Linked DNA regions of Homo sapiens: regions 2, 3 and 4 are each linked to region 1. Evidence: fine-mapped expression QTL. A gene starts in region 1. Each other region holds a variant in brackets. All regions are shown on one strand. Distances are between the middles of the regions. Region 1 holds the start of ATRN (attractin). Region 2 has its middle 29 kb from the start of DNAAF9. Region 3 overlaps SMOX (spermine oxidase). Region 4 overlaps ATRN (attractin).

What was found. PIP is the estimated chance that this variant, and not a neighbour inherited with it, causes the effect.
Region 2: its variant is fine-mapped to the expression of ATRN in whole blood (TOPMed, PIP above 0.99).
Region 3: its variant is fine-mapped to the expression of ATRN in cerebellar hemisphere (GTEx, PIP above 0.99).
Region 4: its variant is fine-mapped to the expression of ATRN in whole blood (INTERVAL, PIP above 0.99).

What each region holds. Positions count from the first base shown.
Region 1 is chr20:3,468,339-3,473,488 of GRCh38, reverse strand. It overlaps ATRN (attractin), which reads right to left and starts at 2,471. Exons shown (of 29, transcript NM_139321.3): 1 at 1,972-2,471. The coding sequence starts at 2,381. RefSeq lists a silencer at 2,085-2,644 and an enhancer at 2,745-2,884.
Region 2 is chr20:3,433,688-3,438,837 of GRCh38, reverse strand. No RefSeq gene overlaps it. Among named protein-coding and RNA genes, the nearest start is that of DNAAF9, 29 kb to the right of the region's middle. The variant A/G (reference allele first, on the strand shown) is at 2,640.
Region 3 is chr20:4,155,096-4,160,245 of GRCh38, reverse strand. All of the region lies in intron 1 of SMOX (spermine oxidase), which reads right to left. It overlaps LOC124904861 (a long non-coding RNA gene), which reads left to right. Exons shown (of 2, transcript XR_007067504.1): 2 at 1-1,683. Among named protein-coding and RNA genes, the nearest start is that of SMOX, 8.8 kb to the right of the region's middle. RefSeq lists enhancers at 2,109-2,609, 4,138-4,307 and a cis regulatory region at 4,222. The variant C/A (reference allele first, on the strand shown) is at 2,073.
Region 4 is chr20:3,618,646-3,623,795 of GRCh38, reverse strand. The region is part of intron 24 of ATRN (attractin); the gene reads right to left. Among named protein-coding and RNA genes, the nearest start is that of GFRA4, 42 kb to the left of the region's middle. RefSeq lists a silencer at 2,603-2,802. The variant C/T (reference allele first, on the strand shown) is at 2,994.

The DNA of each region.
Region 1 (5,150 bases):
CACTTGGCCTGGCTTCCCGCCTTTCTCTCCAGTCTTGCCAAGCTCCCCTTTGCTCTCTCTGCTCCTGCCACCTGGCCTTCCATCCGCTTCAACCCCAAGCCTCTGTACCTGCTGGCCCCTCAGCACCCCACCCCTCACGCAGGTAGTACCATCTCACCCCTCAGACTTCACATCGCTTCCTCAGTGACTTACCTTACCCCTAGACTAAGTCAAGTCCTCTGTTTGTCTCCTGCTCTTTACCTCCACAGCCTTAAACAAAATTACAATAAAATTTTTGTTGGATTTTTTTACTCCCAAGCTGAAATGTGAGCTCCGTAAGAGCAGGACTGTGCCTGTCTTGTATACCACTGTATCTCACAACCTAAAACATAGGAGCCCTCAACAAATACATGTAGGTTAATGGAATTCATAAATCAGAACACCCTAAGTTACAAAAGCAGCTTCACTGCATCAGTGGTCCTGAAGTAACTTGGTTTCTCCATCCATAAAACTAAAGAGCTCATCTGCTCAACGTTCTCTGAGTTCCTCAGAAGACCTAATATTACCTAAGTCTACAATTTTGCTATTCCAAACTCCTCTCTCACAACTCTCTTCCACATAGGCAGCAGCAAAACTTTACTTTCCAGCCTCCACAACTTTGTTTGCACCCTTCTTTCCATCTGTAATTTTTTTCCAGCTCCACATTTCCAAATCCTACTTAACCTTACATGCTCAAATCCAATGTTACCGCCTCCTCAAAGTCCTCCTTGCATCCCTCCAGCTAGCCACAACCTCTCCATCCCTGAATTCCCACAAGTTCCCTGTTGCCTCATTCAGGTCTCAGATCAAATGTCATTTCAAATGAGAACCCTCTCCAAGAGTCACCACCGGTTATAATTCTCTATCAGACCACGCTGTTTTTATTTTCTTGATAGCATTTACCATTACCTGAAATTACCATGTTTATTTCTCTCATTTATTTACTTGTTAAGTGCCTGTTGCTCCCACTAGAATGTTAAGGTCAATGAGAGCAGAGGCCCTGTCTGTCTTGTTCACATTTCCCCACTCCCCCACATCAGACATGTGTTCAGTAAGCTAAATACCTGTCAAAGGCGTGAATGACTCTGTAACCCTTATGACTAGGGTTATGTGCGCACATTATCTTTCTCTTGCTATATTCCAAACTCCCTGTGGACAAGGCCAAAGTCTGGCTAATCTGTCTGTATTATCTGGAAAATCATTGCACAACTGAAGCAAATAACGATAACTGCTAATTAATTTATTGATTTCTCCAAGAGGAACTGCCCCAAACTAAGCCAATTCAGAACTTCATATTGTCCAGAAACCAAGGCAAATAGGAATCTCCTTCCATTCCCTCTTCACCACAGACCCTATTCCAATTTGCCACCTCCAGGGAGCTTTTGCCAAAAGGCTAGTTTCCTCACTTTCCTTTAGAAGGACCACTGGTCCTTCTATCCCTAATATCTTACAATGCTACCCTTTCCCTTTTATCTCCAGCCAACAAAGCATTTCCAGGGCCCTGTTTCTTCAGAGCACCCCACATCTCCAGTGCATCGGGGAACTCATCGGGTCCTAGGGCACATGTGGATGTTAAAAGGAAGTGTTCAAGCAAACCTGGCTCGACCACCTTTCCTTGGATACCTCGTTTAGCTGAAACACGCCGAGTTTTAGAGCGATCGGCTTTGATGCTCTTTGGGTCCCTCAGCATTCTTCCCATCTAACTAACCTAAGCACCCAAATACCGTCGGGGTGCCCCCACCCTTGCCCCACACCTTTTCACCTTCCAACAGAGAAAGACCCCAGGCCAGAGACGATGATCTCCCCGGAAGCAAATGGCCCTCAAACCCCATAGGGCGGCCCTACCCTCTCCACTTTCTGTCCAGCATCTCCCTCTGACCTGGAGCCGTCTCGAACGCCCCTCAGCCCCAGCCTCTGGTTGGACCCGACCCTCCGACACCACCCGCCACTCACCTGAAGCGGCCCCCGCAGTGCTGGCATTGCTCGCCCACCCAGCCGGCGGGGCAGACGCACTGGCCGGTGCCAGGGTTGCAGCGACCGCCGTTGACACAGGGCCGGTCACATTCCTTGGCCTCGGCTGCGGCTGAGCCCGACACCGCCGCCGCCGCCGCCGCGGCCTCGGCCTCACAGGGCAGCAGCAGCAGCAGCAGCGGCGGCGAGAGCAACAACAGCAGCAGCAGCAGCCGTGGCCGCAGCGGTGGAGACAGCAGCCGCGGGAGGCGCAGCCCGGCCCCCAGCCCCGGCCTCCCAGCCCTGGTCACGTCCCAGTCCCAGTGCGGCCCGCCGCTCCTGCCCGCGAGCGCTGCCGTCGCCGCCGTCCTCCTCCTCAGCCTTGCCTCAGTTGCCGCCGCTGCAGCCACCATCTTCCCGGGGCTGAGACGGCGCCCCGCGAACACATACACACACACCGCACGGCCGGCTCCGCTTCGCCTGGCCGTGCGGGGCGGGGCTGTGCGGACGGTGGCTCGTGCGGTCCAAAGGGGCCACAGCGGGGCGGTGGGCGGGGCCGGCGCGCGCGTGCGCGAGTACGTGGGTGCGTGCGTGCGGGGGCGCAGACAGTGGTCTCCGGCGTCCGCGGCGCCGGAGGCGATCTTCTGACGTGGACCGTAGAACGAGCTGAAACCCGGCTGCGCTGTCCCGGCCGGCGAAAGCTCTAGTTTTCCCCCTTCGCCTTTCGTCCCCGGCGGCGGGGTTGCAGCCCCACTGGATGCCTAGGAGCCGACTGCGTTGAGTGTTGCCCTCCTAGAGACCCGGCACTCTGCCCTAACTCCAGCTGCCGGACGGAAAGGGTACAGGAGGCTGCATCGCAGCGAGGTGCTGGGTGCGGTACTGTAGAAGCCAGGCTTCATTCGAGCCTCTGTAACACAAGAGTCAAGAAAGAACACATGTAGAACCTGGCATAGGCCGGGCGCGGAGGCTTACGCCTGTAATCCCAGCACTTTGGGAAACTGAGGCAGGCGGATCACTTGATCTCTGGGATCCGAGACCAGCCTGGCCAACAGGGTGAGACACTGTCTCTACTAAAAATACAAAAATTAGCCGAGCATGGTGGTGCGCGCCTGTATCCCCAGCTACTCCAGAGGCTGAGGCAGGAGGATCGCTTGAGTCTGGAGAGGTCAAGGCTGCAGTGAGCCGCAGTCGCAGCACTGCACTCCAGCCTGGGCAACACAAGACCCTGTGTCAAAAAATGAAGAACCTGGCATGTAGGCTGTGCTCAGTAAATGCCTAATAAACTGAATGAAGACACACAGCCAGGCCTCTTGATAACAGATGGACTGTAGCTGACCAGACCCCCTACCTTTAATTCTGTAAAAGTTTGGAGTTACCTTGCTCCCCACAATTTGCCCTCCAACCATCTTCTCTGAAGAGTGGGCAATATAGAATTAGGAAATGGCGCTCACACAGACCTGCCCCTTCTTGTCTGGTAGTTGTTACTCTGGTGTCCCTCAATGAGACATGTCTTCCATCAATGTAGCCTTTTATGGTCCTTGACCCTGGAATCTGGGCTGGGTCATGATTGAGACCATGAGAAACCATGACTCAATTTCACCAATAGAAGAAGTTGGTAGGAGTAGCAATGTCTTGTTTCTAGCTCTGAGCTTAAAAAAGACCTGGCAGCCTTGGCCGGGCACGGTGGCTCACGTCTGTAATCCCAGCACCTTGGGAGGCCGAGGCGGGCAGATCACGAGGTCAGAAGTTCGAGACCACCCTGATCGACGTGGTGAAACCCTGTCTCTACAAAAAATACAAAAATTAGCCGGGCGTGGTGGCACACACCTGTAATCCCAGCTACTCAGGAGAGTCGCTTGAATCCAGGAGGCAGAGGTTGCAGAGAGTCGTGATCGCGCCACTGCACTCCAGCCTGGGGGACAGAGCGAGACTCTGTCTCAAAAAAAAAAAAAGACCTGGCAGCCTTGATTTTGAGCTGTTGGTGGTCATGAGCTGCACCCCGTTAGCCACCTTGCTGGAGAGAAACCATGTGCAGAGACCACTTGGACTTGGAGAGGGAGAGCTGGGCCGCTCAGCTGGTGGAGCCATCCTAGCTAAGGGATCAGTCATTGAGTGAAGAAGCTATCTGGGTTGGGTTATTCCAACCGTCTGGGCTGTTCCATGTTACCTACAACAGTAACAGGTCTTTCCTAACTGTGACTTATCCAAAATCCTAAGAAATAACTCATTTATCATTTAACCCTTAAGTGATGAATTATTTATAATTTTTCATAAATTATGATTTATGTTATTTTAAGCCTCTAAGTTTTAGAGAGGTTTGTTACTCAGTAATAGATAAGCAGAACATTGTCCGACATAATGCTTGTGCTATGAGGAATATTCCTATGGCACCTACCTCAGAATCTGGGCACCTTACAGTCCCTGGGAAACAAAGAAAAACCCTCATAGACCTGTGGAGCCTCTCAGCTTTACCTCAGAGTATGGAATTTTAAGGTTCTAAGATGGATTTCCACACTCATACCCAGGTCCCACTCTCATACTCAGGTCCTGACTGTCCTCACTGCATCTTCTTCAAGCCTGGTGAAGCTGAATTGCACAAAAGCCTTACCCCCAGCTCTACATCCACACATACTCCCCATTCCTACAGGAAAACTATTGTTCGGCCTAGGCCCTAGCACTGACATTCTGGTTTGCAGGTTATGTTTTTGCCATGTAGGATTTTGAAATTGAAGACATGGCCCTACCCTCTGGCAGGACCCCATCAGATGGGGAGGCTGGCATAGGCCATGCCCTAGCTGTAGGAGACATTGCTCCCCCTAATCTTCCAGGCCAGAAGTGAACCAGCCCTTTCCTTCCCTTCCCTCCCCACAGCAAGACTGAACCCACACTGTGAAGTTTCACATGATTTTACCAACATTCAGGGATAACAGAAAAGGTGTGCATCTGAAGAACAGCAATCCCTAGACTAGATATTGCTACTCTGAAGCCTTAGAATCTTGCTGCAGCAAACATTCTTTCTTACTTCCTTAATCTACTCTCTTCTCTGGTTCTTTTTCCTTAGCTTTCAAACATGCTCAAATTATTTTGTCCTTAAAAAACAAACACGCTGGGTGCAGTGGCTCATGCCTGTAATCCCAGTGCTTTGGGAGGCCAAGGTGGGAGGATCACCTGAGGCCAGGAGT
Region 2 (5,150 bases), 35 kb after region 1:
CTCCTGGGCTAAATCAGTCCTCCTGCCTAAACCTCCCAAGTAGCTAGGACTACAGGTACATGCCACAATGCCTAGCTAATGTTTTAAATTTTTTGTAGAGATGGGGTCTCTCTATGTTGCCTAGCCTGGTCTCAAACTCCTGGCCTCAAGGAATCCTCCCACCTAAGCCTCCCAAAGTGCTGAGATTACAGGCGTGAGCCACTGTGCCCAGCCTGTGTGGATATTTTTTAATTAATTCATTGTTCTAGGTTCCTGGTAAGACCTTTCAATGCAGAAACTTGTGACTTTGTGTTAGGGAAGCAGGAGCCTAGAAGAGCCAAATTAAAAGTTCAGCTCCATCTGGAGACTAACAGGGCACATTCCTTGCCAGTCACTACCCATGATTACAGATGTTTATAGTTGAGGAAAGACCATAAAGACACCTACGAGGACGCACTCCTCCGTCAGAGAGTTCAGATGTCCCAGTACCCATAAAAACACATGCTTTCAAGATAATAACAGTTATGGCAGGGTATGGTGGCTCACACCTGTAATCCCAGCACTTTGGGAGGCTGAGGAGGGCAGATCACTTGAGGTCAGGAGTTTGAGACCAACCTGGCCAACATGGTGAAACCTTGTCTCTACTAAAAATACAAAAATCAGCTTGGCATGGTGGCATGCACCTGTAATCCCAGGTACTCGGAAGGCTGAGGCGGGAGAATCGTTTGAATCTGGGAGGCAGAGGTTGCAGTGAGCCGAGATTGCACCACTGCACTCCAGCCTGGGCGACAGAGCAGGACTCCATCTCAAAGATAAAAAAAGAGAAGAAAGATAATAACAGTTATGCTCTGATGGACTCACACACTGAAATGTCAAAGAGGCCGGGCATGGTGGCTCAAGCCTGTAATCTCAGCACTTTGGGAGGCCGAGGCGGGCAGATCACGAGGTCAGATCGAAACCATCCTGGCTAACACGGTGAAACCCCATCTTTACTAAAAATACAAAAAATTAGCCGGACGTGGTGGCGGGCGCCTGTAGTCCCAGCTACTCGGGAGGCTGAGGCAGGAGAATGGCGTGAACCCGGGAGGCGGAGCTTGCAGTGAGCCGAGATTGCGCCAGTGCACTCCAGCCTGGGCGACAGAGCGAGACTCCGTCTCAAAAAAAAAAAAAGAAAAACTCTGTGTGTGTGTGTGTGTGTGTGTGTGTGTGTGTGTGTGTGTGTGTGTACCCTCGTGTGCTCGCACAAACGAACAGAGCTAGAGTTAAAGGAATTCCAAGGACAATTTGCTGGGTAAAATTCAAGACTGATTAATTTTCCACAGGGCAATAAAATCATTGTATTTAACCACACAACCAGGCTATAAAAACATAGAACCTATTAGTCTCTAAAGTTAAACTATACCAGGCTATAAAAACATAGAACCTATTAGTCTCTAAAGTTAAACTGTAACTTTATAGAACCATAAAACTGTCTGTTTCTTCAATCATTATGGATTGATTACATACATTGTGGCAATGGAATTTCATTCCCCTGGTGTGTCCCATGAGGGTAAATTCCCAGGATGCAGGTTCTGCTTTTATTGAAACAGGGTTTGAAAAAGTGTTCCCCTAAGATCTCAGGAATTAGGCAATCATAATTTTGCCATTTTCCCAAGTGTGGAATCATTTCCTCTTTAATACCTGTGTCAGGTGAGAATGTCTGAAATATGTGTTTTGTTTGGTTTTTTGAGACAGGGTCTCACTCTGTTGCCCAGGCTGGAGTGCAGCAGCGTGTTCATGGCTCACTGCAGCCTTGACCTCTCAGGCACAAGCTATCATCCCATCTCAGCCTCCTGAGTAGCTGGGACCACAGGTGTGTGCCACCACGCCTGGCTCATTTTTGTAATTTTTTTTTTTTTTTTGGTAGAGATGGGGTTTCACCATGTTGTCCAGGCTGGTCTCAAACTCCCAAGCTCAAGCAATCCACCTGCCTCAGCCTCCCAAAATACTGAGATTACAGGCCTGAGCCACCATGCCTGGCCTAGAACATCTGAAATATTTATTCTCGACATCACTAGCTCAATCTTGTTTCAATGTCTGTTCTTTTTGTCCTTGTGAGTTTTGTCCTTTTTATTTTTTAACTGTTATTTTAGTGAGGTTTGGAGAGGACGTAGGCCCAAATGCATGGACTCAATTCCCCACTTTTAAAAAATTTTTATTTTATATTATTTTTTGGTAGAGACAGGGTCTCACTATGTTGCCCAGGCTGGTCTTAAACTTCTGGCCTCAATCAATCCTTCTGCCTCAGCCTCCCAAATTGTTAGGATTACAGGTGTGAGCCAACAAGCCTGGCCCAGTTCTGCTTTTTTGATCCCACATTTCCTCCTGCTCTCTATTGTCCAGGACTTTCATCAAATGCCTGGCCTTTTGGCTTTTCAGTTTCCTGATGCTGCTGTAGATGTATTACTTTCCCTCTTTCATGTCTTTTCTACATTTCACCAGGAGTGTTCAGCAAGAGTGACAGTGTGCACTTGTGTGCTTTATACACTCCCTTGATCCAGGTCTTTTCCTGACTATATCAACACTTGGTTCCAAATAGCAAAGAGCTCTCCATCTTTGGGGATAGAAGCAAACTGTTCCTATTACTCAGAAAAACCATTGCTGTAATGTTGCAAGAATTA[A/G]TAGGTATCTTGTCTGCTATAGTCTTCCCAAGGCAGGAAAAAAACCATAAGCATCTCCTTTCCAGCCCTGACCTCTCCATTTCTTCCTCACCCCCTTCCACCTCCAGAAGATGCATCTTCGTTTGCTGGCATTCTGGCCTTCTTTGCCTCAGAGGATGCCCTTGTCAAGTTCTAGCTGTATTGCCTGGTGGGTGTGAAACCACTCTTAACATAAACTCCTCAGCTGGTCCTTGGCAAGGGCTTTTCCTCAACTTTTCAGATTTAGTGGGTGTTTCAGATTTTAGTTTAGTGGTAGTTATATATGCAGAATCCCAGGCCCCACTGGAGGAGAGGGAGAAGGTGGCTTGCAATCTACATTTTTATGGAGGCCCTCATGTCAAAATCTGGGACAATCTCAGCCTCATATGAATAATGCAGGAATGGATTATTATATATTGAATCAAAAGGAATCCATGTGTCTCTATTGATATTAACACCAAAAATTTTGGCCTGTGCTCACACCTGTAATCGCAGCACTTTGGGAGGCCAAAGCAGGAGTATCAGTTGAGCCCAAGAGTTCGAGGTTACAGTGAGCTATGATCATGTCACTGTACTTCAACCTGGGTAACAGAGAGAGACTCTGTCTCAAAACAACAACCACCACAATAAATAAATAAAACAACCAACAATGGTATTTTATTTTATTATTATTTTTCTTAATAGAGACAAGATCCTGCTATGTTGCCCAGGCTGGTCTCGAACTTATGGGCTCAAGCAATCCTCCCACCTCAGCCTCCCAAAATGTTGGGATTACAGGCGTGAGCCACTGCACCTGGCCAACACCAAAAATTTTAAAGGGGGTAGAAAAGAGGGCCAGGTGAGGTGGCTCACACCCGTAATCCCAGCACTTTGGGAGGCTGAGGTGGGTGGATCACTTGAGGTCAGGAGTTCAAGACCAGCCTGGCCAACATGGCAAAAACCCATCTCTACTAAAAATACAAAAATTAGCCAGGCGTCCTGATGCCCATCTGTAATCACAGCCACTTGGGAGGCTGAGGCAGGAGAATTGCTTGAACTTGGAAGTCAGAGGTTGCAGTGAACCAAGATGGCATCACTGCACTCCAGACTGGGCAAGAAAGTGAGACTCCATCTCAAAAAAAAAAAAGAAAAGAAAGCTCTTCTTCATAAAAGAATGCCAAATTGTGAATGTAGATGGAATGATAGAAATGGAAAAATCATCATTTTATGACCAGTCTATTAATAATTGATTCAGGCAGGCATCATCAATGGAATGTAAAACTATTAGGATAAAGGGGGTTGGGAAAAATGATATTCATAAGGTTTGAATGTATCACCCTACAGGCTGTTTAGTAATCGCAAAAGGGAAAACGTATCTTTACCACAGAGAGAGCTGAAGGTCACCACGTTGACCATCAGATTACACTTAGCATCACCATCAACGTGAAAATTGACTGGTGTGTTGCACTGAGAAGACACAACATCACTTAATGTTTCTACCAATAATCTAAACCCAGATTTATTTTTAAGAAAATCAGGTTGGCCAGGTGCGGTGCCTTATGCCTGTAATCCCAGCTACCTGGGGAGGCAGGAGAACCGCTTGAACCCATGAGGCAGAGGTTGCAGTGAGCCGAGGTTGCGCCACTACACTCCAGTCTGGGCCACAGAGCGAGACTCCGTCTCAAAAAAAAAAAGAAAGAAAGAAAGAAAGAAAATCAGGCCGTTATGATGTCATCTTGATTTTAAATACAAAGGCTTAGTCAGTGCACATGATCAACACTTTGAACTTTCAGTTCCCTTCTACCACAGCCTCCTATATGTTCTAGAAGTGTCTAAGGGAGACTCTTGTGCAGTGCTCTCAGAATCTTCCATTCTCCCTCTGGAAATGTCACCTGCCAGGCCTCTGTTGTATGAAAAGAGTTAGCATGGCCTCTTATGTTTTTGCAAAGTGCTTCCAATGCCAAGGTTACTCTATGCTGAAATATGCCTTGAAGCCACTTTCTTACATTATGATCCCAAAGGGACCACTTTAGACTTCCAGCATCTCACCAAGATTTTTATGTGACCATCATCCAGTTTATGTCATTAGTCCTTAGGACTGAGAAGTGGGTCCAGGGTGGCTTACAGGGGAAAGTGGCTTAGTCAGTATTGTCTTGCTGGTCTTGCTCTCTGGGGCATGGGATTCTTATTCCAAGCACCCATCCAGTCACGTAGCTCACGCTGGAACTCTCATCAGCCCATTGATATCTTGGAGTTTAACACAAGGAAGTATTGCACAAGACAAGCCAGAGACCCATGGACATAATGGCTGCCAAAGCAGAGAAGGGGAGGTGACAGATTTAGGAGACAGCAGCCGCCCTCACCCTCACTGTCCTCTCTGTTCCTCCTCTTTCCTTGGAAAACAGGCCTTCCTGGGGACCTCCTGCTCCCCTCAGTTATCCAGACTCTACCTGTCTTTTGTTTATACTAATGATAGCATGCTAGGTACAGTGTTCTCCATCTTGCTTTTTTCAT
Region 3 (5,150 bases), 690 kb before region 1:
CTGCCAAAGCCTGGGGCTGCCACCGGGAAGCTACCTGCTTTCTGGCCTGGGCGCTTAGTGGGGTCCCTGCAGGTCACCCTGGTCTCCCTGCCCCATGCAGCTGGATTAGGCTTGCCAGGCACTAAACTAGCCAGGCCTCAGTCCTTCACCCTCGATCTCCTCCTCCATAAATAGGGCCAGGGACAAGTTCTAATTGCATTGGCCAGCACAAAAGAAAATTCAAAAAGCAAGTAACTCATAACTGCCTCTAGACGGTCCTCGATCACTGGCCCGAGACCTTCCCCTCCTGGTGACTTCAGGGTACATTAACTGTGCTCTCCTAAGAAGACCACAGGATTAACCAATAAAGCACTTTCCATAGAATTCAACCATGAAGCACAGTCCCCCACCCACGCGAGGGCTGGAACCAGGTCTCAAAAGCCACTGGGGTTCATTTCAGAATGCACACAGGGGCCATGCGCCCATGATTTCATCCATAAGACCCCTATGAAGTGGAGACGCTGAGTTTGGACATAAACATATTCTTTAGGCCCTTTTGTGGAGTTCAAAGAGAGAATAACTCACTAGCTTTTGAAGCATCAAGAAAGGTCTGTTCTTAAAATCCTATCATCATTGTTATCACTCTATTTTTAGCTGAATACACCTGAGATACAGAGTGCAGTGCCAAGCATTTTGTGTGGAATACCTCAATCCTCACATCAATACCCCCATAGTACAGAGGAGGCAACTGAGATTCAGAGAGGTTCCACAGCCTGCTATCAGCCTGCCTCTAAATTTTACTTAGTAATATATTAAGCCTCAGGCCTTGCTCTTTTTAAAATCTAATGAAGAAGCAGCTGGGCGCAGTGGCTCACACCTGTAATCTCAGCACTTTGGGAGGTCGAAGTGGGCGGATCACTTGAAGTCAGGAGTTTGAGACCAGCCTGGCCAACATAGTGAAACCCCGTCTCCACTAAAAATACCAAAATTAGCCGGGCGTGGTGGCAGGCACCTGTAATCCTAGCTACTTGGGAGGCTAAGGCAGGAGAATCGCTTGAACCCAGGGGGCAGAGGTTGCAGTGAGCCAAGATCGCGCCATTGCACTCCAAGAGTGAAACTCTGTCTCAAAAACAAAAAAAAATCTAATGAAGAAGTCAAGTTCATTATCTTTCCTTGAGTTACTTTTTAAACTCCAAACCTTTTCAGATTAACTCTCAAGGTTTTGCATTGTGTATGATTTTTTTTTTTTAATTTTCCAAAATAAGAGAGAGTAAAAGGTCCCTGTGTGTTTAACATTTAAAGGCATCATTTAAAAATATTTCCTAAGAATATATGCCCCTTGGTGGTGCTGGGTGTCTCCTGCTTGAGTCATCCTAAAATCTAGCCAACTCAGCCTGCAAGGAGTATCACCACCACCCGCCAGGATCAGAGGTGCGCTGGCTGAGCTGGGCTGTCCCGGAGATCTGGTTATGGGTGGGGAGCAGTTGAAGGTATGAGGACAGGCTCTGAGAGAGCCATGGGGTTGACGAAAGGGCATCGAGACAGATGTCCCAGAAACTGAGTGAGACCCATCATGCCTCACTCAGGCCCCCGGGGCTGCATGGGGAAGACAGGACCCATGTGTCTGCCAGGGCCTAGCACAGAGTTGGCAGGGGTGGCTAGATTCTTTGTTCTGTTTTCTAATAAATTGCAACTCACTTCCAAGTTCTTGTTCTTCTGACTTTAAGTCACACCTTCCTTAATGCCGTCCCTCAAGAAGCAGGTGGAGAAGAAGGGAATCTGGACTAAGGGGTGCTGCAATGCCCCCAGCTAGGCCACCATGCTCCACCTGAATCCAGATGCTTTTCCTCATCCTCCAACCTCCCAGCCCCAGATTTAGAGAGCACTGGGCTCCTACATGCTTGAGGAAGAAAGACAAAGGGGCAAAGGAGGACAAGAGAGGGGAGCTAGGGCTGGGTAGGAAAATCCACTGAGCATGCCCCACCAGGGCCTTCGGGTCAGGTCGGAGGGCCAATGTTGCCCCACGCACCACCGTAGCTCCTCCTGGGTATTTAAAATACCACACCCCGACCGGCGCTGTGGCTCACACCTGT[C/A]ATCCCAGCACTTTGGGAGGCCAAGGCGGGCGGATCACGAGGTCAGGAGATCGAGACCATCCTGGCTAACAAGGTGAAACACCATCTCTACTAAAAATACAAAAAATTAGCCGGGCGTGGTGGCGGGCGCCTGTAGTCCCAGCTACTCGGGAGGCTGAGGCAGGAGAATGGCGTGAACCCGGGAGGCGGAGGTTGCAGTGAGCCGAGATCGCGCCGCTGCACTCCAGCCTGGGCGACAGAGCGAGACTCCAACTCAAAAAAAATAAAAAATAAAAAATACCACAGCCCATCTCCCCCACCTGAGCTGCTGAACAAAGAGCCTCACACCACAGAGGAAAGGAGGTGTGGCAGAGGCGAGGCAGGGTAGCCTCACTGACTGCCCTGAGAGTCTGAGAATGAGGGTCACGTCCGCAACTTGGCCCCTCCCCCAGCTTCATGTCCATGAAGGGGCACAGCACCGCCCCCTCCCACAGCCCACCATCACTCACACCCTGCCTCATGTCTCACTAATGCACTGCTCTGATCACATCACTGCCCTGCTCAAAACCTTCTGTGGGCTGCCACAGCCCAGTGAACGAAGGTAGTCCCTGATGCCTCCTCCCTGCCCGCAGGCCACTTGTCCCCTACACACACCCACCAGGATCCTCTGACTCTCAGACTCAAACCTGTGACTTCTCATTCTGTCCAGATCTCCCCACCTAACTGGCCATTCCTCCAGGAAGCCAGTCCTGCTAGCTACCCACACCCTCTTTCTTCTCCTCTGCAGGCTACTCTGGTCTAACCAGGACCCCAACCTAAGCCTTGTGCCGCTTTCTGCTGGCTCTTGCTTTCTTCCCTCATGTCCACGATGACAGGGCCCTCCCCAGGGTCCCTCCTCCAGCCATGTCAAATCCAGTAGTAAGAGCAGCCAACCGGTATTAGAGTGTCACAACAACCCAGCCACCCTAGGAGGGAGGTAATATTACCCTCATGGTACAAATGAGGGAACGGAGGCACAGAGAGGCTTAGCTTATTGTCCAGAGTTCACAACCCTGCTGTGTTAACCTCTGAGATGAAAGGCTGGGGAGAACTTGCAAAGCGAGGAAATGCCCGGGAGGTATAAGGAAAAGGCCCTCTCAGAATCCAGAAGATGGCCGGGCACAGCGGCTCACATCTGTAATCCTAGCACTTTGGGAGGCCAAGGTGAGCAGATCACCTGAGGCCAGGAGTTCCAGACCAGCCTGGGCAACACGGTGAAACCCCACCTCTACTAAAAACACAAAAATTAGCAGGGCGTGGTGGTGAGCGCCTGTAATCCCAGCTACTCGGGAGGCTGAGGCAAGAGAATTGCTTGAACCCAGGAGGTGGAGGTTGCAATGAGCTGAGATTGCGCCACTGCACTCCAGCCTGCGTGACAGAGTGAGGCTCCATCTCAAAAAAAAGAAAAAGAATCCAGAAGACCCAGGCCCAGCTACCTGGGGATCCCAGGCACCAGACAGGTCCTTCCAGATCCTTCCTCATTCACCCAGTGAGGCAGAGCCATTGCCACAAGAACCCAGGGCTGGCTCTCGGCCCAGAAATACCAGGGAGAAAAGGAAGGATGGCAGGGAGCTTCCTGGTAGAGGTGGGATGGGCACATCTGAGGGCCCTGGTCAGTTGAGGTCCCACCAGGCACTGGCAGGGGGGTAGCAGTTGCTACACCCAAAGGAAGGTGGGGAGGCAGACATGGGGGGCAAAGATTTACAGATGAAGAAACTGAGGCCTCAGAGGGGAGCCTGGCATCTCTCTCTCTGCAGTGCCCTCTTCTTCTACTGATTGTCCAAATGTGCCCATCCCACCAAGTCTACCTCTACCAGGAAGTCCACCTGTGCTACCATGTTCGTGGCCTTCCAGTGAGCAGCATCTTTCCACATCAGCTTTTCCCAGCAGGTGTTTTCCTGGTGGGTGGGACATTATTGGCAGTCATTTAAAAAAAAGATTTCCACGGTCAGATCAGGCTGGGAAACACTAAACAGTTTCTTTTCTACAGGACTTGTCAGGACCTTTAATTCTCTTAAATGTATTCTGAATCTCCCGTAGGGTAGTGGAGTGAATTTGCCAGTTTCTACCCTTATTTGTCCCCTGAACGCTTGAGATTGCGCAGAACAGTCTTTGAGAAATGTTATCCCCTCCCATCCCGCAGGACGGCCTGGCCCAGGGGCAGGGATCAAAGTGGGGTGTGATTGGCTTGGCCTTGCCCTCCTTTGAGGAGGTGTGTGTGGGATATCTGGGGAGCTCAGACTGAGAGCCAGTCAACCCCTACCCTGCCAGCCCCTCATGGCACTGCCCAGGGCAGTGGAACCTTTGCCCTTTGTGTCTGCCCTCTGTACCTTCTTTTGGGTGTAGTGACTGCTACCCCGCTTCCAGCAACTGGGGGGACTCAACCCACCAGTGTCCTCAGATACGCACCCCAGGCCATGTAGAGCCTGAGGTGCAAGGGGCCTTGGGAGACCCCCAAAACAACCCGGATGGTTTTTTCCAAGCAAATTGCTAATTCGACCCCATCATTAGCATGTGAGTTTTAATATTAACTTTAATATTTAATATTAAACTAAAATGTGTTAAGCTGACTCTCTGGGAAGAGGCAATGCCCCACCCAGCAAACCGTGTGATAACCCCCCTGGAGGGACCTGAACCCCTCAGTTTACAGATGAGGAGACTGACACCTCAGAGAGGAGCAGACACTTGCCTGTAGTGGCCCAGCCAGGGCAGAGCAGAGAGAAGCATCCAGGCCCCCCCCACTCCCACGTACGCCGCAGAGGTGGCCAGAGTGGGATAAGACCCCCGACAGCAGCTCATGTAACCATCAGTGACAGCAGCTCACGTAACCATCAGCGGCAGCAACAAGGACTTGGGCCAGGGTGACAGGCACTGCACACGCTGGGGTGATGGCCCGGCAGCTGGGGAGACTACCGTCTTCTATGAGGACACGTCACAGCTGGAGCTAGAGGGCCGGATCAGCTGTTTCCCCAATCTCTCGGCCCCGCCCTGGCTGGAGGAAGGGTGCTCACCCCAGATTGGTTGCCCACAGTGCCAGGCTCGGCTGTGGACAGAGATAAG
Region 4 (5,150 bases), 150 kb before region 1:
TAGCCCACGAAAAAATGCATACCTCCAAATTGATTAAATACGAGAATTGTGTCCTTACTATCACCGATAATATACGTGCTACTAGCCAGATGTTGTGGTGCGCTGCCTGCTTTTTTTTAGGGAACTCAGCCCTCTTTGGAGAGACAATGGTACTATAAACGAAACAATTACTGACCAAGGTGACAATCCCAGTACAGACAATTCTCATGACAAACACAGGAAGGTAAATGACGAGCATCTGCTTTCCTAGTCCCACCAAACCCCAACCCCTTGCACTGTTTTTAGAGCCAGACTCACAGGGGCCAGAAAATAGACTTCCACTGTTTGCTTTTTTGATGGCCCTATTTTCTTTTTGACATTCCATAAATAAATAAATTCCAACACTATTCAGGCCATAATATATTATGGGGCTTGGAATTTGAAGTTTTTGTGTCCTCCCTCTGGCTACCATTTATAATCAGAAATACAAAGTTACATCAATTTCATACAATAAACAGAAACCCACTTTCTTTTCTTTTCCTTCATTTATCACAATAACCAGTCCTAGCTCCTTGAGAGAAGGAAAGCTGCGGAATATGAGCCATGGTCCTCACATAAAAGTTTTAGATAAGACTGGAGAATTATATAAACAAGGTCATTTTGGGGAATGAAGAATCCAAGTTATAACACATAAAGAGAGAGAAGGAAACAGATTAGAGTCCACCCCAGCCCTGTCTGGATTTCAATCTTTTAAAACGTTAAGTGTGTCCTCGGTGTTTACACTTAAAGAATCTATGAGATACTTTTACTCCCTGCTAGATGCCAAAAACCACTGGATGCTAAGGGCACTGTCTGAGGACTTATCTGGTGTTCATGCGCCCTGTGCCACACAACACTCCTCAGGGCAGCCCCCGCCTTTACCCACACTGGATGCTAATGGTTATTAGCCTGATTTCTTGCTGAAGCAGGACCACTCCATGTTCATGTCCAAATTATAATCATAAAGAACCTCATATAAAACAGCTTTTGGTATGGCTGGTACCCAAGACTTTAAAGGGATCCTCTTAGTTGAATCTTTATCATCTAAGTCTCCATAGTTACAAGATTGTGTGAGGAGGCAAAGGTCATAACGTGAAAATGTTTATGAAAGCACTGACCACTTAGAAACATCTAACCCTGCTGAATACCCCGCCCACTGCGGTCAGTCTTTGTTGGTCAACCTTTGACTGACAAGATGACAAACTTATTGTTCAAACTGAACACTTCTGAAGATGAAGGAGAGTGCTGTTAAAAATTACACGAGGTAATTAAAAATTACTCAATGTAAAAGGCATAAACTTGATTAACAAACATACATTGGGCTGTCCCTACTCACAGACTGTCATACAATGCCAACCAACTGTAAAATCCATCTTGTAAAAGACAAGATTTTAGTGGAAGCGCTGTTGGAGAACTGCTCGCACAAAACCATTGGCAAAGGAAGACTTGGCAGATTTAGCCCTTCAGTTATCAACTGAAGAAGGGATAAAGGATGAAGCCATAGGAAGTGTTTCATAATTCTCTAAACGAGATTAAGGGAGGACTTTGGGAAAACTAAGGAGTTTCCTGGCTGTTGCTTTTTACATCCTGCTGTGAAGTCTCAAGTGAAGGACTCCATGATGGAGCTATCAGATTTCTGGGCACCATGTGCACAACTGAAGCCACACCCCCATCTCTTTATCTTGCTCTATTTAATTCATAGCCCGTATTTGTACACTTACTTATGGAAAATAAGATCTGTGAGGATTGAAGACAGAGACTTCCCCTTATCCCACTGACCATATATCTCCAGTGCCTAAAGCAGCCACTGATACATTAATTGGCACTTAATAAACATTTGCTGAATAAATGAATATGTTAATAAGAAAAATAATGATCTGTCTCACAGAACTCAGTAAGATCTGATTTTTTTTTCTTTTATGAACTTGGCTCATGAAGCAGCACCATACCTGCTTCATGATTGTAACTATAAATGTTGTTAACTCTAAAATTAAAGTATTTTCCCATACTTTTTGGTTTCATTTTTAAAGACAATATCCCAATCAAATCTTTCTTTCACAATTTATTATGGAAACGGTGAAATAGATTTGGGGGCCTTTCTGATACTGAAGGTAATGAAAATTTCCTATATAAAAATCTATTTTAATACAAAGAAGAAATTCTTATTTTATAAATAAAACTCATAATGTCATTCTTCTCTGTTTCCAAACAGTAGACACCATACTCCACACTCCAAGAAACCTAGAATTCACGTCCTACGACTTCCACAACCCAATTCCAACTCCACTTTCATCAATATGTCTAAGGTGTATCTGCCCCATGGGCCTTCTGGATGTGTTCATCAATTCTGAAAAACTCTGAACTCGGAAGCTCAGTGAGCCCCAGGGTTTGGGGTAAGATATTACGGACCTGCACTTCCTCAATCACTAATGTTGCACTTCAGCCAAAAGTGCTTCCGCTCACTCTACTACTGTACTACTGTACCTGACGGCAGATGTCACCAGAGAGCCTCCCTGCCTGTGTGCATGGGGGTCCTCCCTGTCCTTTCTGGCTCAGCACATCACTGCCTCCGTTTTTAAGCATCCCCGGCCCCACTGGAAACTCTGGCAGGCTCTCCTCTACGCTCCCTCACCATTGATCTGCTTCCCTCTCAGGGCGTGTGATAATTATGGTCTATATAGGGGTGTCCAATCTTTTGGCTTCCCTAGGCCACACTGGAAGAATTGTCTTTGGCCACACATAAAATACACTAACACTAACACTAACGATAGTGCTGATGAGCTTAAAAAAAAATAAAATAAAAAAATCATGTTTTAAGAAAGTTTATGAATTGTGTTGGGCTGCATTCAAAGCCGTCCTGGGCTGCATGTAGCCCGCGGGCCATGGGTTGGACAAACTTGGTCTACCATATACCATGGCTGTGTAAAGACAGACATCCTGAGAAGAGGATTCCTGCATTCTTCTGTCTATGAAGA[C/T]ACCAATTCCTAACTTTTAAATTACTGTTGTAGAAGAATGAATGAAAAGGTAACTTCCTACCTCCCATACAAGAGCAGATACACTTTTGTATTCCAAGAACTAGGCCATGGCTCTCAAACTCTGGATAGCTTACAACAAAGTCAGAATCTCAGGCCCTATCCCTGTCTCTATATCTTTAAGCTCCTCCAGTGATTCTGATGCTAGTCTCCATAGGCCACACTTCAGGAAACTCTGAAGTAAGAAATTATTTAAACATCAGGCTGGATGCAGTGGCTCACGCCTAATCCCAGTACTTTGGGAGGCTGAGGTGGGTGGATCACTTGAGGCCAGGAGGTCGAAACCAGCCTGGCCAACATGGCAAAACCCCATTTCTACTAAAAATACAAAAATTAGCTGGCGTGGTGGTGTGCACCTGTGATCCCAGCTACTTGGGGGGCTGAGGCACAAGAATTGCTCAAACCCAGGAGGTGGAGAGGTTGCGGTAAGCCAAGATCGCACCACTGCACTCCAGCCTGGGTGACAGAGCGAGACTGTCTCAAAACAAAACAAAACAAAACAAAACAAAACAAAACAAAACAAAACTCCTCCTGTGCTCCTTTCCCTGGACAATTTCTTTAGCATTTCAGGAACTGCATTGAAAAAAAAAAATCCTCGCCTTTAATTGGAAGGTTAAATCCCCATAATTAGTTTGGCTCTTTTGGGGAGTGGGAGGGAGATGGGGAAGGATAAGGGTAGAGGAAGAGAGGACAGTGCTTTGAAACAAAAGGAGAGGCAGGGCCCAAACCTGGAGGCAGGGAAAGGGAGGGAATGGAGGGGAGGTTTTGCATTCTGAAAGTGCCTGGGAATGTAGGGTGTCCTTGTGGCAGGCTAGGGAGGCTCTGGTGCTTAAGTGTCATTCTATGTCCAAGCCTGTGCCACACAAGAGTGAGGATGCTGCCCTCAAGAGTGAGGGGCCAGGGAATCGGGCGCAGCAGTCAGCGACTGAAGATCAGACCAGGGGACCTTCCCCAACCTCTGAGCTCAGTTCAGCCCTGAGGTTTCTGTATGTTCCTGAGGGAAGAGAATGGGTCTCTGCCAAAACAGAGGCTGAGAATGAATTTCTAATTAAGTATGGTGGGTAGAACCTGAGTCCAAGATTACCATAAAAATATGGAAGCATGGCATTTCTTATATTCCACTACCACATAACAAATGCTTTCCATTTTAAAAATGATTGTATTTTTGCATCTACTATGTGCCATCCACAAAGAAGGTACTCAAAAACTTGAATAAATGGATGAATGAATGAATACTGAATGACTAGGAAAAGTCACTGTTTAATACAGCAGATTTGAAAAGAGAGAAGAAAGGACCTTTCATTGGCCTCTGGCCTCATTCAGGACTTGCGTTCTGGTCGGAAGGATAAAACTGGCATTTCTAAGTCAATACCAGAGTTTCCTTTTCAGAAGGTAAGACACCGTGGTGCAGAACTAATTACACTTTATGTAGCACTCATCTAAGTCTACTGACCATATGCTGTGGAACCATGGACTGCAGAAAGGGCTGCATTATTTCTACCATGGAGATGTCTATCTATCCATTATCATGAGCACACAAGACAGGGAGAGGAAGAGAAAGGACAGCTGGCCACCCTGTGAGGTGAAGTCTTTCCGCTTCAAGGCAGCACCTGTCAGGCTCCGAGAAAACGCAAGGTATGTATGTACTGGGCAGAATCTCCGCAGGCTCCCAACGACCCCCTGGGACCAGCGGCCCCACCAAGGGTGAGAGCTCAGCCCAGAAGGAGCCCATGTGCTCCTCTATTCTCCTTGAGGCCTCTACTCTTCTTGGCTTTGCAAAGGATGGAAGATTCCGTGAGCCCTGGCTAAGTACATTCTAACCTGGGTCTTGTGCTGTCACCTCCTTGAGTTTGGCTGTGACATAAAACAACTCTTCCTTTTTTCTTAAAAAACGAAACAAAACCACCACCACCACCAAAGTTCATACATGGAACTCTATGTCAAGACCACAGCTCTGGACCAGATCCATATGACCATCACCCGGCCTCACACACCACGCACCTAATGCTGGTTTGTGCTGGCACAGAAACTGTATACCCAAGCTCTGGTCAGAGCCCCATGGCCAGTTAATGCCATTCAGCCACTCATTCCTGCCATGCA